2 separate regions of the Homo sapiens genome follow, and region 2 is linked to region 1. Evidence: fine-mapped expression QTL. Tissue or cell type: whole blood. Region 1 holds a variant in brackets; the other region holds the start of a gene. All regions are shown on one strand. Distances are from middle to middle.

The links. PIP is the estimated chance that this variant, and not a neighbour inherited with it, causes the effect.
Region 2: it holds the start of CBX2, and the variant in region 1 is fine-mapped to the expression of CBX2 in whole blood (TOPMed, PIP above 0.99).

Annotation. Positions count from the first base shown.
Region 1 is chr17:79,750,860-79,758,958 of GRCh38, reverse strand. LOC124904070 (a long non-coding RNA gene) reads left to right here. Exons shown (of 2, transcript XR_007065927.1): 1 at 1-117; 2 at 1,246-1,615. Among named protein-coding and RNA genes, the nearest start is that of CBX2, 23 kb to the left of the region's middle. The variant C/G (reference allele first, on the strand shown) is at 4,830.
Region 2 is chr17:79,774,736-79,782,834 of GRCh38, reverse strand. CBX2 (chromobox 2) reads right to left here and starts at 4,687. Exons shown (of 5, transcript NM_005189.3): 1 at 4,528-4,687; 2 at 4,408-4,451; 3 at 3,408-3,473; 4 at 1,034-1,139. The coding sequence starts at 4,599. RefSeq lists an enhancer at 3,434-4,027 and silencers at 4,423-4,492, 4,503-4,882.

The DNA.
Region 1 (8,099 bases):
CTCCCAAAGTGCTGGGATGACAGGCATGAGCCCTCACACCTGCCCTAACATTTTGATGGATGAAGCCAAATTGCCCTTCCAGAAGCTTCTGCTTGTGCCCAGGCACATTGACATGAGGTGAGAGGCCTGTTATTTCCATTTCTTATCAGCAGTAGCTTTTATCAAGCTTTAAAAGATGCCACAAGATGAAAACTACAACTCCATTTGATTTATTTTCTTTCATTACGATTGAGGCTGACATCTTGGCTATTTGCATACTTCTTTTGAGAATTGTCTGAATATATTATCCAAATCATTTATCCATTGTATTAGGTTACTCATCTTTTTCTGTTGTATTTGTAAGCATTCGTTGTATATTAAAGGCGCTAAGACCAGGTATTTGGAAGGCTTGAGAAGGAAATAATTTTTTTTGTGTTTTGAGACAGCGTTTCACTCTGTTGCCCAGGCTGGAGTGCAGTGGCATGATCACGGCTCACTGCAGCTTCCCACTTCCAGGTTTAAGCGATCCTCCCACTTGTAGTTTGAGTCTCTGGGACTGCAGATGTGTGCCACCACACATGGCTAATTTTTGTATTTTTTGTAGAGACGGAGTCTTGCTATGTTGCCTAGGCTGATCTCAAACTCTTGGGCTCAAACAATTCACCTGCCTTGGCCTCCCAAAGTGTTGGAATTGCAAGTGTGAGCCACTGCGCCCGGCTGGAAATCTTTTTTTTTTTTTTTGAGATGTAGTCTCCCGCTGCCACCAAGGCTGGAATGCAGTGGCTTGATCTTGGCTCATTGCCACCTCTGCCTCCTGGGCTCAAGTGTTCCTCCCACCTCAGCCTCCCCAGTAGCTGAGACTACAGGTGGGTGCCACCGCACCTGGCTGATTTTTGTATTTTTTTTTTTAGTAGAGACAGGGTTTCACTATGTTGGCCAGGCTGGTCTCGAACTCCTGACCTCAAGTGATCTGCCTGCCTCAGCCTCCCAAAATGCTGGGATTACAGGCATGAGCCACCTTGCCCAGCCTGGAAATCATTTTATACCTACAGCAAAACGTCGGTGATTCTACTGTCCATGTGAAAACTCAACTATCAACCAAGCTGTTCTTTTGCTCCAATATCTCAATCATGCAATCACCAACTTAGATGTTCCAATTTAGTTTTAGTAAATGCTTTAGAAAAAAGTAAACCTGGAATGGGAAGGCACCATCATTTCTCTGCCTTGTGCCTGTAACCTCCTTCACTATTTACCACCCCTCTTTAGGGCCTCGAATCCTGCCTGAGCTCCATGAAGGCTGCAGTGACTTGAGTTGGCGTGAGTGGAAACCTCTGCCTCCACAGTGAAATGTCACTGACTACTGGAAATTAGGCGAATGCATTAGTGCACAGCAGAGGTGGCACGGGGAGCGGTCAATGTGTGTCAGTCTCCCCTGGCGGACGGTGGCGAGCTGAGATGAGGTTGTGTCTGCCTTTGGGAGGTGGGGGAGAGCTTGGCCGATGAAGAGGGGTGGGGGTGGCGTGGTACGGGAGCTTGGTTGAGTAGAAGGAATGGGTGAGGGGGAGGTGGACCAGGAGGATTCCTGATACAATATAAAGACCCAGCTACTGGAGCAGGGGCGCATTTGCTGACCGTGCTAATGTTGGTTCCTACCCATGTTTGTTGACCCCAAAGTTTACTTGGTGACAATATCGAGGCCAGCTGAGGACTAAAGAGAAAGGTGGTTGGTGACGGGGCTCCCAGGATGGGGCCTGGGGGATGATGGGGAACAGCTTCTATCCTTCCCTTCTCCAATGTGTTTGATGTCCTTATTCTAGGCTGGGCTGGCCTGATATTGGGCATCAGTGGCAGCTCTTTGAGCACTTTGCGTTTGGGGCTGAGGCTCTCGAGAACATTTTCTTGGGAACTTTTACTGTTCTTTCTCCTGCATGGAGAGGCTTTCCCCATCTGCTTCCAGGTGGCTTTGCAATTGAAACTCAACAACGCTGAAGCCCTTCTTCCACACAACCATGCTGCGGCCTCTCCGTTGCCTTTCCACATCCCTCCAATTAAGCCTTTGGCTTCATTTATGCCTCAACATCCTCCTTCTAGTTCCACTGTGAAATGTTATGAGATAATCCAAGGGAAATATTTTCACTTCGAGATCACCACAGGTTGCACCCTGAATCTCTGGGTTTGGTGTGGCTGAGCAGATGGGATGAAGTGCCCTGGGCACACCTAGCCTGTTCACCCCTTGGCGAACATGGTGAAACCCCCATCTCTACTAAAAATACAAAAATTAGCTGGGCGTGGTGGCACGCGCCTGTAGTCCCAGCTACTCAGGAGGCTGAGGCAGGAGAATCGCTTGAACCCGGGAGGCGGAGGTTGCAGTGAACCGAGATGGTGTCACTGCACTCCAGCCTGGGCAACGAGAGCAAAACTGTCTCAAAAAAAACAAAAACAAAAACAGGGTCATCGGGCCACCCTGGGCTGGTCGACACATGAGGATAGGCGGCTTCCTCACCAGCCTCTCATTCCTGCCACAGATCCCAGCACTCTCTAGGGTCACTCAGCACTGAGACCAGAGGTTGACCACTGTTTGTAACTGTGTTTATGCTGTTGCTTTTCTTATAGTTAAGAAGAAAGCAAACTATTTCCACTACCTGTGTCTCTATCAAAAGTGAAAAATAAAAGCAGGTGGAGGGTCTCTGGGTTTCAGGGAAAGGGCTTTCCTTCATACCGAGCAGCACACAGGAAGGCGTGGGCCAAAATCACTGGTGTCCCGGCTGGGCGCGGTGGCTCACGCTTGTCATCCCAGCACTTTGGGAGGCCGAGATGGATGAATCACCTGAGGTCAGGAGTTTGAGACCAGCCTGGCCAACATGGTGAAACCCCATCTCTACTAAAAATACAAAAATTAGTCAGGCGTGGTGGCGGGCACCTGTAACACCAGCTACTCAGGAGGCTGAGGCAGAAGAATCGCTTGAACCCGGGAGGTGGAGGTTGCAGTGAGCCGAGATGGCGCCACTGCACTCCAGCCTGCACCACAAGCGTGAAACTCTGTCTCAAAAAAACAAAAACAAAAACATGAAACAAAATCACTGGCGTCCACAGCAGCTGGGAGAGGCAAGGACGGGACCTCTGCAGAGCCTGCAGAGTGAGCACGGCCTCTCTGGATTGGACTTCTGGCCTCCACACCTGCGAGGGAACACACCTGGGTGGCTCAACGCCCTCAGTCTGTGGTGCTTTCTCAGAGCAGCCGCAGGAAACCAATCCAGCGGGTCGCCTGATCATCAACATGGACGAGAGGGAAGCAAGGACCTGTCGCCTCAGGACACTGTCAACACTTAACTGTGGTTTGAATGTTTGTGTCCCTCCAAAATTCACGTTGAAACTTAATCCCCAGTGCAACAGTACTGAGGAGTGAGAAGGCCGTAATGGCTCTGCCCTCCGGGGAGGGATTAGAGCCTCATATATTATATTATTTTATTTTGAGATGAGATTTGTATTATTTATTTATTTATTTTTTTGAGACAGAGTCTCACTCTTGTCGCCCAGGCTGGAGTGCAGTGGCGTGATCTTGGCTCACAGCAACCTCCACCTGCTGGGTTCAAGCAATTCTCCTGCCTCAGCCTCTCAAGTAGCTGGGATTACAGGTCCTGCCACCACGCCCGGCTAACTTTTTTGTACTTTTAGTAGAGACGGGGGTTTCACCATGTTGTCCAGACTGGTCTCGAACTCTTGACCTCGAGTGATCCACCCACCTTGGCCTCCCAAAGTGCTGGGAGGCGTGAGCCACCACGCGTGGCCTTGAGATGGGATTTTGCTGTGTTGCCCAAGCTGGTGTTCAATGGCACAATCTTGGCTCACTGCAACCTCCACCTCCTGGGTTCAAGTGATCCTCCCTCCTCAGCCTCCCGAGTAGCTGGGACCACAGGTGTACACCACCACACCTGGTTAATTTTTAAATTTTTTGTAGAGACAGGTTTTAGCCATGTTGCCCAGGCTGGTGTTGAGTTCCTGAGTTCAAGTGATCTGTCTGCCTCAGCCTCCCAAAGTGCTGGGATTACGGGCATAAGCCCCCGTGCCTGGCAGGATTAGAGCCTTATTATAAAAGGGCTTCCCTTCCTCCATGTGAGGACACAGCATTTTACCCCTCTGGAGGATGTGGCAACGAGGTGCCATCTGGGAAGCGGAGATCCTTGACCTTGGACTTCCCAGCTTCAGAACTGTGAGAAATAAATCTCTATTACTTATAAATCACGCAGTCTGCGGTGTTTTGTGACAGCAGCAGGAACAGATGAAAACAACACAAAATACGTAACGCTTTTGTCTTGTGTTCACAATTGCCTTTGGGTCACTGTAGCAGGACGGGGCCCCACTCAGCCTACGGAATAGCAGAGGGCCTTGCCCACTCTACAGTGCAAATACCACGTGGAGCTCCTCAGCTGAACAAAGAGAAAACTCGGCACAGAGGGAGTGAATGATTTGCCCCAGGTCTCGTGTATGATCAATGGCAAAGCTGGACGTGAAAACCAATAACGAAAAAGAAAGAGTAAGCCCTGGGTGATGATGATTAATGGGTCTCATTCTGGGTGGGCGGTGGCAGGGCCCCAGCCTCAAGTATTGCCTTCAAAAACAATCATTAGATCCAAATAGCATCTGATTGTTGTTGGAACTTTTGGTTCTTTAGAAAGGATGAACATCTTTTCCTATGCTTTACTGGCCATTTGAATTTCTTTGCAGAATTGACTGTCTCAGTTTCATATGAGAGGAGCAAACCTCTTTTGAAAACGATATAAATGGAAAACATTAATTCTTTTTCTATTCATTATTATTTTTTGAGACAGGCTGGAGTGCAGTGGTGCCAT[C/G]ATGGCTCACAGCAGCCTTGAACTCCCAGGCTCAAGCAATTCTCCCACCTCAGCTTCCCAAGTAGCTGGGACCACAGGTGCGCACCATCACGCCTGGCTAATTAAAAAAATTTTTTTGTAGAGATGTGGTTTCTCTACATTGTCTAGGCTGGTCTTGAACTCCTGGACTCAAGTGACCCTCCCTACTTGGCCTCCCAAAGTGCTGGGATTACAGGTGTGAGCCACTGCACTCCGCCAAAACCATTTCCATTAATTCTTTTTTTTTTTTTTTTTTTGAGAGAAAGTCTCCCTCTGTCACCCAGGCTGGAGTGCAGTGGCACCATCTCACCTGACTGCAACCTCCACCTTCCAGGTTCAAACGTTTCTCGTGCCTCAGTGTCCCGAGTAGCTGGAATTACAGCCACCCGCCACTATGCCTGGCTACTTTTTTTGTATTTTTAGTTGAGATGGGGTTTTGTCATGTTGGTCAGGTTGGTCTCAAACTCCTGGACTCAAGCGATCCTCCCCCCTCAGCCTCCCAAAGGTCTAGGATTATAGGTGTGAGCCACTGCGCCCAGCCAAAACCATTCATTCTTTATCAAAGTCCGAAGAACAACCATGTTAAGAACCAAATGAACAAGAGGCAACCTTGTGACAGCTGCAGCATTTTGGGGGTGAGCTCTCCTGTGGGCATGTGCAGCTTGAAAGACATGACCCATCCTGGACAGACACACCCGGGGCTAAACAGTTACAAATTTCAGGGAGCCGCCCCTAAGCTGTGTGTGTAGCTAACGTTTTCTTTTCTTTTTCTTTTTCTTTCTTTCTTTTTTTTTTTTTTTTTTTGAGGCAGACTCTTGCTCGATTGCCCAGGCTGGAGTGCGGTGGCGTGATCTCGGCTCACTGAAAGCTCCGCCTCCCGGGTTCAAGCAATTCTCCCACCTCAGCCTCCTGAGTAGCTGGGACTACAGGCGCCTGCCACCACGCCCGGCTAATTTCTGTATTTTTAGTAGAGACAGGGTTTCACCGTATTGGTCAGGCTGGTCTCGAACTCCTGACCTCAGATGATGCACCCACCTCGGCCTCTCAAAGTGCTGGGATTACAGGTGTGAGCCACCGCACCCGGCCTGGTAACATTTTCATTTACAACACTGGACTCGCAGAGGGGTTTCTCCGCAGGTTGGTTTGTTGAAAAGGTTGGTTCTTGCCTTTTGCTCTCCAGAATGTGTTTCTCCCGAGAGCTGGTGATTAAAAAACCCACTTCCGGCCGGGCGCGGTGGCTCACGCCTGTAATCCCAGCACTTTGGGAGGCCGAGGCGGGCGGATCACGAGGTCAGGAGATCGAGACCACGGTGAAACCCCGTCTCTACTAAAAATACAAAAAAATCAGCCGGGCGTGGTGGTGGGCGCCTGTAGTCCCAGCTTCTGGGGAGGCTGAGGCAGGAGAATGGCGTGAACCCGGGAGGCGGAGCTTGCAGTGAGCTGAGATAGTGCCACTGCAGTCTAGCCTGGGCGACAGAGCGAGACTCCATCTCAAAAAAAAAAAAAAAACCACCCACTTCCCTGATTAATTCCAGAATTGGAAATACATTCAACCTGTGTATTTTATTAAAAGGGACAGCTGGGGAGGTGTTTGTTAAGGTGTGCTCTGCTTCCCACACCAAAAGCAATCTGATGACGTTTGAATCGGATGACGGAGAGTCATTTTCCATGTCGAGTCACCAGTGTCGATTCACAAAGTTTGGTTGACGGCCCACAGCTGGGGCCCAGAAAAACCCGAAGGGGAAGTTTGCTGGGGCTCTCTGCGGTGCCCTTGGCCACCTTCTCCGTGCTTCTCCGACCAAGGAGTCCGGGCTCCTGCCGGGCTCTGGTGGGAGCTGATGGATCTCAGGTGAGGACAAGTCAGGCTCGCTTCACCCAGCCCTTCCCTCTGAGTCTCCCAACAGAAGCTTTTATTAACCACCCCAAAGATGGGACAGCTCTGTGGAAGCCACTGGGCAAACCCTGTCTGAAACATGGTCATTATCTGCCTTCCACTATTTTTTTTTTTTTTAAGATGTGGCCCCAGAATCTGTTTTCTTTTAGTTGTGGTAAGACACACATAACAGGGCCAGGCACAGTAGCTCATGCCTGTAATCCCAGCACTTTGAGAGGCTGAGACTGGCAGATCACCTGAGGTCAGGAGTTTGAGACCAGACTAGCCAACATGGTGAAACCCCGTCTCTACTAAAAATACAAAGGTTAGCTGGGCGTGGTGGTGTGAGCCTGTAATCCCAACTACTAGGGAGGCTGAGGCAGGAGAATCACTTGAACCCAGGAGGTGAAGGTTGCAGTGAGCTGAGATTGCGCCACTGCACTGCAGCCTGGGAGACAGAGGGAGGCTCTGTCTCAAAAAAAAAAAATGCACATAACATTTACTATTTTAGCCATTTAACAGTGGCACTTAGTCCATTTACAATGTTATACAGCCATCACCACCATCTAGCTCCAAAGCGTCTTTATTATACCAAAAAGAAATCCATTAGGCAGTCACTTCCCACCCTCCTCCCCCAGCCCCTGGCCACCTCCCATCTCCTTTTTGTCTATGGAGTTACCTATTCTGGATATTTCCTATAAGTGGAATCGTGTAATATGTGGCCTTTTATGTCTGAATTCTTTCACTGAGCATGTTTTTCACGGTCCATTCATATTAAAGTATGTATCAGTACTTCATTCCTTTTTTTTTTTGAGACAGCGTGTCGCTCTGTCACCCAGGTTGGAGTGCAGTGGTGCAATCATAGTTTACTGCAGCCTTGACCTCCGGGGCTCAAGAGATCCTCCCACCTCAGCCTCCCAAGTAGCTGGAACTATAGTTGTGCACAACCACACCTGGCTAATTGTTTTTTCTGCTTGTAGAAACGGGGTCTTGCTATGTTTCCCAGGTTGGTCTTGAACTCCTGGGCTCAATCAATCTTCCCACCTGTGCCTTTCAAAGTGCTGGGATTACAGGCATAAGCCACCATGCCCGGCTAAGTACTTTGTTCCTTTTCATGGCCAAATAGTATTCCATTATATAGATAGACCACATTTTGTTTGTCCATTCATCTTTGATGGACATTTGTTTTGTTTCTACCTTTTGGTGAGTGTGAATGATGCTGCTTGTTACATCTGTGTGCAAGTTTTTGTTTGAACACCTGCTGTCAAGTATTTTGGGTGTATACCCATGAGTGTAATTGCTGAGTCATATGTTTACACAGGAAATTTTAAATTTAAATTATGACTCAAATATTGATATTTCCAGATATGGTTTAATTC
Region 2 (8,099 bases), 24 kb before region 1:
TGCTTTAGGAGTCAGATCCAACACCGCCTCCCTACCACCCCGTTCTCCCAACTTCAACAGGAGTGATCTCCTCAAACCTCCTCAAACAAGGCATCAATCACTGCCTTGTGGCCACTCCTCAGTCAGCAGAACTCCTGCAGCCCCCACAATCCTGCTCAAAAGGAAGATTTTCAAGATAACGTAAGGCCAGTGTAGACCAGCCAACAAGATTCTACAGCAGGGAATCCTGTTCATTCAGGAAATCCTCCTGGAAAGGCAGGTTCAGTTAGTGACTGAGCTCGTGGCCACAACACGCGAAGGTCCAGGGACAGTGCCCGGAGGAGGGAATCAAAGCCACACCCGGGACTGAGGCCAGGCCCTCCTCCCCCATCCTGTCCTGCCTCACCTGTCCTCAGGGGAGGGAGGGGCCCTACCACGGACCCCAGGGGCGCATGCATACCTGTGGCGGGGTGAGCCCATCACTGTAGCGAGGAGGGGTGACAGGACAGTCCCGAGAAGGCCAAAGCACATCATCAGCCCACACTGCCTCTGCCCTCCTCCAAGGCCCCTCCTGGCACCCCCTGGCTATTCAGTCAGCCCTGCCTTTCGTGGCCACCTCGATTTAAGGTGCACCCGCAGGTGGGCCCGGAGTAGCCCCCAAATCTTAGGCTTTTGAGTCACATCCAGCCGGCAATCCTATGAGCACCTACTGTACGCATGCTTCCTGTTCCTTTCCGTCCCCCAAGGACCCCCTGGGAGGGAAGAGTGCTTGTCTGCAGCAGTTTGACCCTGCCACCCAGCAGAGAGGCGTGCAGGACAGGCTGAAGCAGGAAGCCCCTGGGAGGGGCGGGGAGGAACTCTCAGCCGGCTGGGGCCCCTGGCAGCAGAAGCTGAGAGACAGGAAGAAAGGGGGCTCCTGTTTTCCGAGTAGAGGGACAGACTGTTGGCAGAAGTGCCACCCCCTTCCTGAGGGCCCCAAACCCTCCCTCTGCCTGCCCCCTACGCCAAGGGGGTGCTGGGAGGTGGGGTCAGCATACCCAGCGCAGCCACCCACCTTGAGCTTGGAGCGCCGGCTGCAGGAGGACATGGCAGTGAGCTTCCTTGGCCGGCCTCTCGGCCTCTTGCCTCTCTTCCGGTTCTGCACCTCCTTCTCATGTTCCCTGAAGGCACACCACTAGTTAATGGGGGAGAAGCCCTGTGCGTACCCCTTCTACCATGTGGGACTCTATGGCTTCCAGCACCCTATTCCTGTTGGCCTGTAATAGCTTATCCTGTTTGCCGCAAACACATCATCAAATACCCAAGGCAGAGATCAGACCCCATTCTTTGCACTAGGGTCAGTAACCAGCCATCCCATTTCATTTGGCTAAGGACAAGCTGAAGACAGGAAAGCAACGCTGGGAAAACAATGACGCCCCAGTATTCTCTGACTTAAGACAGCTTCCTGCAGGTGCACTGCTGCATGGAAATTCTAGCATATTCTAACCAGAAGTGGCCTCGGTGGCCACACGGTCCAACCTCCTTACTTTCAATAGGAGAAGGAAGCCCAGGACAAGGAGATGCCACCAATCCCCTGGGCAGCTTCTGGTGCATAAAACCCTCACCCGGGCAAGGAGCACCGTGGGCCCTGTCCTCCAGCCCTCGCAGAGCCTGGCTGCTGGCACATGACTCTCCTTGTTTCCTTTTTAAAAATACCTCTCTGTTCCTAAACTCTACTCTTGAGGGAGATGACAGAGGTGCCGAGGTCTGAGGCAGGCAAGGCTCAATGCACGCACCACTCGCAGTACCCCCCCCGCCCCCAGAAGAGCCTCCACACCTCCAGGGTCATGAAGTGCTAGCAGAACCTCCAGCCCCCAGGGAAAGCCTGTATTTCAGAAAAGGGGCCCTGGTAATTATCTGGGCAAACATCATCTCATTGGGGCCTGGAAGGCAACCTCCTCAACACAGTTCTGATTAGTACCAGGCAAAGTTCATACTCTTAAGTGCTGGTCCTTAACCTGAAATCTCCTAAAAGGACAATGAAGTGTTGCATGGATCTCCTCCGCTGAAATATTAACCTGTGCACTGACTGCTGTGATCCTGTGCGTCGCCAAGGGCCATACCCCCACCCCCTCCAATACCAAGCAGGTAACCGCCAGCTCCTAGTGCCCAGAGAGAGCTAACATTTTGGTGGATGGAGAAGGCTGTCCCACCTTCTCTGTTTTCTTTCTTCCACGATGTCATCCAAGCCACCCATGGGTTTTACACTCTTCTTATCTCAGGTGTTTCTGCTCTAACCAAAACCACAATCTCTCTCAACAGTTAGGACACCGTCTTAGATCCAGAGAAGCGCACCAGCCTCTGAAGTGGGCCAAGCCATTCCCCCACCCCAAGGCTCACAGCACCCAGACAGGAACTAACAGAAGACGATGGGTTGCTGTTACGATTTTCCAAAGGGATTTAAGCAAGCACAGGCTCTTCTTTTTGCTCGCCCCACCAGAAAACTCTATTTCCCCATTATCATGACCCCTCTGGGAAGACCCAATATGTCCCGCTACAGTGGAAAAAAGGGAATGCACCTTTTGCTACCAGAGAACAAACCGTCCAGATTGACCCTGGCTGGGAAAGACTCCAGCAACCAATTCTTCTGCCTCTATCCACAGGGCAAGTCCAGCCAGGGGATCCAGGGGGAGCCGTCAGTGAAACCACCCCCCATCTTGCCATTGCTTGAACAGTACTCCCTGGCCCTTCATGCCAGGTGGGCACATCCACTGCCCTCTCCTCACCACCCCTTGCCCTTGAACATCTCAAGGAGGCCTATCTCTTAACCTAAACTTCCTACCTAAAAATAGAAATGACATCTAGAATTACAGAAACAAGTCTGGCCCAATCCGGCCTCATGGTGCTACTTGGTACTGTATGCTGCAGGCCAGAGCAAAATAAATGTTTCTTTCTTGAGAGAGACATCACAATAGGCACAACTGCGTGCTGTGTGTTCCAGCTCCCTCTCTGAGCCTTCTTGCCTGATGGCACACGCGTGCAGGGCTGGAAGGGCAGACCTGCGTCACTGTGGCAAACCTGCTCTCCTGGTTTTCTGTTAGCGCCATGTGCAAATTACTCAGCAGAAAAGGCCAAGAGAAGCTATAACATCTTTATCTGAAGCAACTGAAAAAGTTGGTTTTTGCAAGTATGGCTGTCGGAAACACCAAAGCAGCACTTACTTAGGTTCTTCTCAGGGATGGATACAGGCTGGCTAGGAGAAGGTGGGAGAGGGGCTGGCTGGGGACTTTTACAGCCAGCCACAGAGATGGCCCTGGACACAATCTTGCTAAGGGACCTCAGACCACAGCCCCAGCTCCAGCCTCCCGGCAGGCGAGCAGCGCCCAGCACGACTCCAACCAGCCACCGTCCCTCCCCCACACCCTCCCCAGTGCTGTCAGCGTCCTCACTTCTTCTGGAAGGCCAGGAGCAGCCTCGGGTCCAGGATGTTCTCCTCCGGCTCCCAGCTGTTATGTCTGCAAAGCAGAGGACAGGGCAGCATTAGACGCCAGGCTGATGATCACCGCTTTGCAAGGCAGCCCGAGGGGGCTCGCCCTCACCGCTCCTCGACTTGGGCCGATGGCAGTGGCACCGTAGCACCATGGCACTTCTCAAAGTCCAAACCCAGGTTTTGGAGGCTGGCCACCCCCCACCAAGCCAGCACTCTAACCTCAGACCCAAAGGGAAACTGCCGCTCCAACCCCCCAATTAAAACAAGGCCACAAGAGGACTCCCACAGTCTCTGCCTGGGAGAAAAACAAACCCCCATAAAACGCAAAGTTGCAGAGAGGGATTCCCCCAAACCCTGGCCCGGAGCCAGAGGAGGAAGGGAAGGCAGGTCCAGCATGCAGGGAGGGGCACAGGCGCCCAGCCCGAGATCCAGAACAATGTGGCGCGCGGGCCGGGGCACCTCGAGGGGTAGCGAAGAAAGAGCGGGGTCCGGGAAGACGCAGAAACGGGGCCGCGGGAGCAGCTGTGCAGAGAGCCCCTTCCGGGGATGCCAAACACCCTCCCTTCCATTAAAAGAAAGAAAAAAAAAAAGAAACTCTACATCCATCAATAGCAAGCTCAGGTTACAGCGGGGAGAATCTGGCCAAGAGGAGGGGGGCTTGCATCCCGCGCCTCCCTCCCGGCCGGGACGGGGGTTGGGGGGAGCGCGGCGCGGCAGCCGAGGAGGTTCTGGCGCGGGGGGCCGCCCAGCTCTGCACCCGCGGGCGTGTAAACAAAGGGCAACCTCGGGCCGGGCGGCCCCCGCCCCCCTCAGAGCCGGAGGAGCCCGCGGGGACCCCGCGAACTTCCCGCTCTGCCCGCGGGCGCCCCCAGGCCACCGGACGGCGCGGCCGAGGGGCTCCACGTCCCCACCCCCGGGCGAGGGGGCGGGAGGGGGGCGCGGCGTCGCGGGGGACTCACTTGGAGGACCAGCCGCGCCACTTGACCAGGTACTCCAGCTTGCCCTGCGGGGAGAGAAGAGGGGCCGTGAGCCAGACGGACAGCGGGCGGCGGGCGGGGGGCCCGGCGGGCCGCACGCACCTTGCGGAGCCGCTTGCTCAGGATGCACTCGGCGGCGAAGACCTGCTCGCCCACGCTGCTCAGCTCCTCCATGCTGCCCGGCAGCCAGCCCGACCGCGGCGCCCGCCGCCAGTCACCCGCCCGGACCGCCGCGCGCCCCGCCGGCAGCACACAAAGCACCGCCCCCGCCCGGCGCCGGCCCGCCCCGCGCACGCGCACCGCCGCTCCGCGCCCGCGCCCCGGCCCGCCGCCCGCCCCCGCGCGCTGCCCAAATCCCGTGCGGGCCAATCAGCGAGGGGGGGCGGGTGCGGGGCGGGGCGGGGCGCGCATTGTCCGCGGCGGGCTGGGCCTCGCGCTCCGGCGGGGGGTCCCGCGCGGGGCCCCGGGCGGGGGCGGGGGCGGGGGTGGGGGCGCGGGCGGGCCCCTGGCTGGGGGAGGAGGTGCCTAGGGACTTCGGGCCTGGGGCGCCCACCGAGTCCCGCGTGATTCCCGGGGCGCGCCCGCCCTTGCTCCCAACTCCGTTTTCCGGGCAAAAAGCCATTGTTCTGGCCCGAAGGGAGGGAAGCGGGACGGGGCGCGGCGGCTGCTTCCTGCCCCCGCCTTCGAGGGGCGCTGCTCCGGGGCACGCGGGGCCCCACCCTTCCCCCGGCTTCTTGAACTGGCTTTTCCTCGGCAGCGGGGGAGTCGCTCTGTTTTGGACGAGAGCAAAACGGGTCGGGGGCTGGGGAAGGAAAGGAAGACGAAGTCCGGGGGAGGGGCCCACAAACCCCAGCAGCCGAGGCTTTTTCCCCCAAAGGCGAGAGAGGAAAATGCTTTAACTTAAACCACCAAGCACTCTGAGAAAGAAGTAATACGAACTGCCCGGAGTTCTTATTAAACAGCTATGAAAAGTGGATCCAGCCCCCGAGTTTTAGGGCACGTGTAGGGAGAAAACCAGCTGCACCTTTTCTGAATTTGTTCCCCGATTTTGATGAAATGGAGGGGGAGGGGGCGGTTTGCAAGGCTGTTCCTAACTTCGGACTAGGTCAGTAGTGGCCCGCCAGGGCTGGGCAGCCGGCGTCCTTCGGATCAATTGTCCGCGGCAGAAAAGGGTCAGGCCATGTTATGAAAGTGGGGGTGACCCCTTGTCCTCCCTGTGATCGTCGTCAGCAGGCTACCCTTTTATTCCGGTGTTAAGATTCGAATTCCATGAAGAATCACCCTTTAAGTTATTTAGATTTTGAATCAGGACAAGTCAAACACGTAATGAAAGAGACCTGAGCCTTAGCTTCATTCGTCTCAACGCAGTCTAACTCCATGAAAATTCACTCTCTGCTTTTCTTGCTTCCTTGAACACAGCTGCAAAATTCTCTTTCTGTTGAGCAGATCCAAAAGTCGTTTCTTGTTGTAGGAGACTGTCTCAATGTAATTGTGATCATCAAAACCATATTTATAAAGGGTTCTGCAGGAGAAATGTGTTTTTTTGTTTTTACAGAAAGGCCTACTGGAGAAAATACTGAACTGTAGGAACCGATCTTTCAATTTATGGCGTGTTCTTCAGTTTCTTTGGTTAGATAGGTTACATTCATTTGATTTCCTGGAGAGTACGTGCAAATTCAGATGTTGTTTGCAAAGAGGGCAGGAGAAAGGGAAATGTCCTTGGGGGGAAGGTGTTTGTTTACTCAGGGGCAGAGGCAGTAAAGAATCCTTGTGTTGGGATAAAACTGGCCTCTGGAGTGAAGGGATCCGCTAACAGTGTCTCCGCCGGCTCCTTTTGTATCCCTGTCTTGTGCAGCTTGGCAGTAAATTGTGGAGTTGAGGGCAAAGGTGTATTTATTGTAATCCTACAAATAGCTGGATCAGTTTCACATCACGTTTCCTTGCAGAATTCATCTTGGGTCTAAGATTTTGCCCTGGAAGTTTCCAGTTTCCTCTTTGACTCATGGTATGCTGGGATACTTGCTTGATTTCTTTTTAAAGAAAAGAAGGCTTTGAAAAGGGAATGATTTCTTTGCTTAAGAAATAAATTTGCTAGAATTTGATACTAACACATTGAAAAAAATAAATCAGCGTCCAGGAAGGTTTAACATGTACATCATCTACCCAACTGCAAACAGTTTGGGTAAAATAATATTTAGATAATTCATTTGGAGAAACAAATATGACAGATTTGGCCAGAATGAAATAATCAGATACATTCTGTGAACGTGTGATCCAAAATCTGTGGCACGTTCCCTAAAAACAAAGCTGGGAATAGGCAGAAGGGAAGAATAACCCCCAGCTAATCCAACTGTGTAAAACAAGCGGACGTCTTCCGTTTTGACTGTCACATTTTAAGAATTATTAAGACAAGTTAAAACTAATTATTGTATTATTCATTCGACAGATAGTTAGTATGTACTATCATGTGGGCACTACTAGATATCCAGTAGTATAAGACCGTAGCAGCAGCTCCATCTGTGGGTGATGGAAGTGGATGGACAGAGCCTCCCTCCACTGCGTCCAGTGTGGTGGCCGTTAGGCACCTGGGACTGCTGAGCACTGGCAGTGTGGCTAGTGCCACTGAAGGCTCGAATTTTAAATTGTATTTCACTTTAATTCATTTCAGTGGGAGTAGCCACATGTAGCTGGTGGTCACTGTACTGGACACTTTGCAGGTCCACAGGAATGAGAGGGATCTGCTTTAAACATATTTTAAATGAAAGTAATACGGTTACATAAATTAATCCTGGAATATGAATAGTTTACCTACACTCACAGTTATGCTTAATTATATACAAGAATGTTTAAAACACATACAAAAAAGATATTAAAAATCCAGGCACAGAGGAAGACATTCAGGGAGTACAGACTTTGTATAGTACTGATTTCCTTTCTACGCAAGTGATAAGGACAAGTATTAACTTATTCGTGTCTGAAATGCTACTAAGAAAGCATAAGTATTTTCACGCTATGCTTGTGGATCGAAAATTACAGATGCCAAAGCAAAGAATGTCTCACTCTGAAGTCAATGGAAAAGTCAGGAATTGAGATCAATCCAGTGACCCTGGATTTGGCAGCTGTAACTAGGTAACAGTAGTTACTTCTTAACCAAATACTTTCAAACAGCTCTTAGATTTTCTAAAAGCACTGTCTCCCTACTGCCATCAGCGGTGTTGGCTAAAAGGAGGAACCAGACACCACCACCAGCCGGTCTGCATGGGATACACTCAGGATTTAGAATACATCACACATTTACATCACATTTAATATCTCATGTCGTAATTTGCCCCCAGCTCCTCTGCACATTTGCAAGACTAAGGTGTGACTTACAGGCTAGCTGTGTTAATGTCACGCCGTTTCTGTGTATGTAATATGTGAATATTACATATGCGGGACAGACCGTGTTTGTGTATCAGAACTCAAGTAAAAATAAGCACAGTTCAGGCACTTGCAGGATCCCTCAAGCTTTCAGTTTGCCTAAGGACCCCTGGGCACACGATGCACATGTCCGCCCCTGGATTCTGACCCAGGACAAGCCAGAGGCAGCCCAGGGCTCTCAGCGTTTAGAACACTTCTTACAAAGGGCAGCCTGCCCAATCCCTCGCTGTGCACATGAGGCAGGAGAATACAAA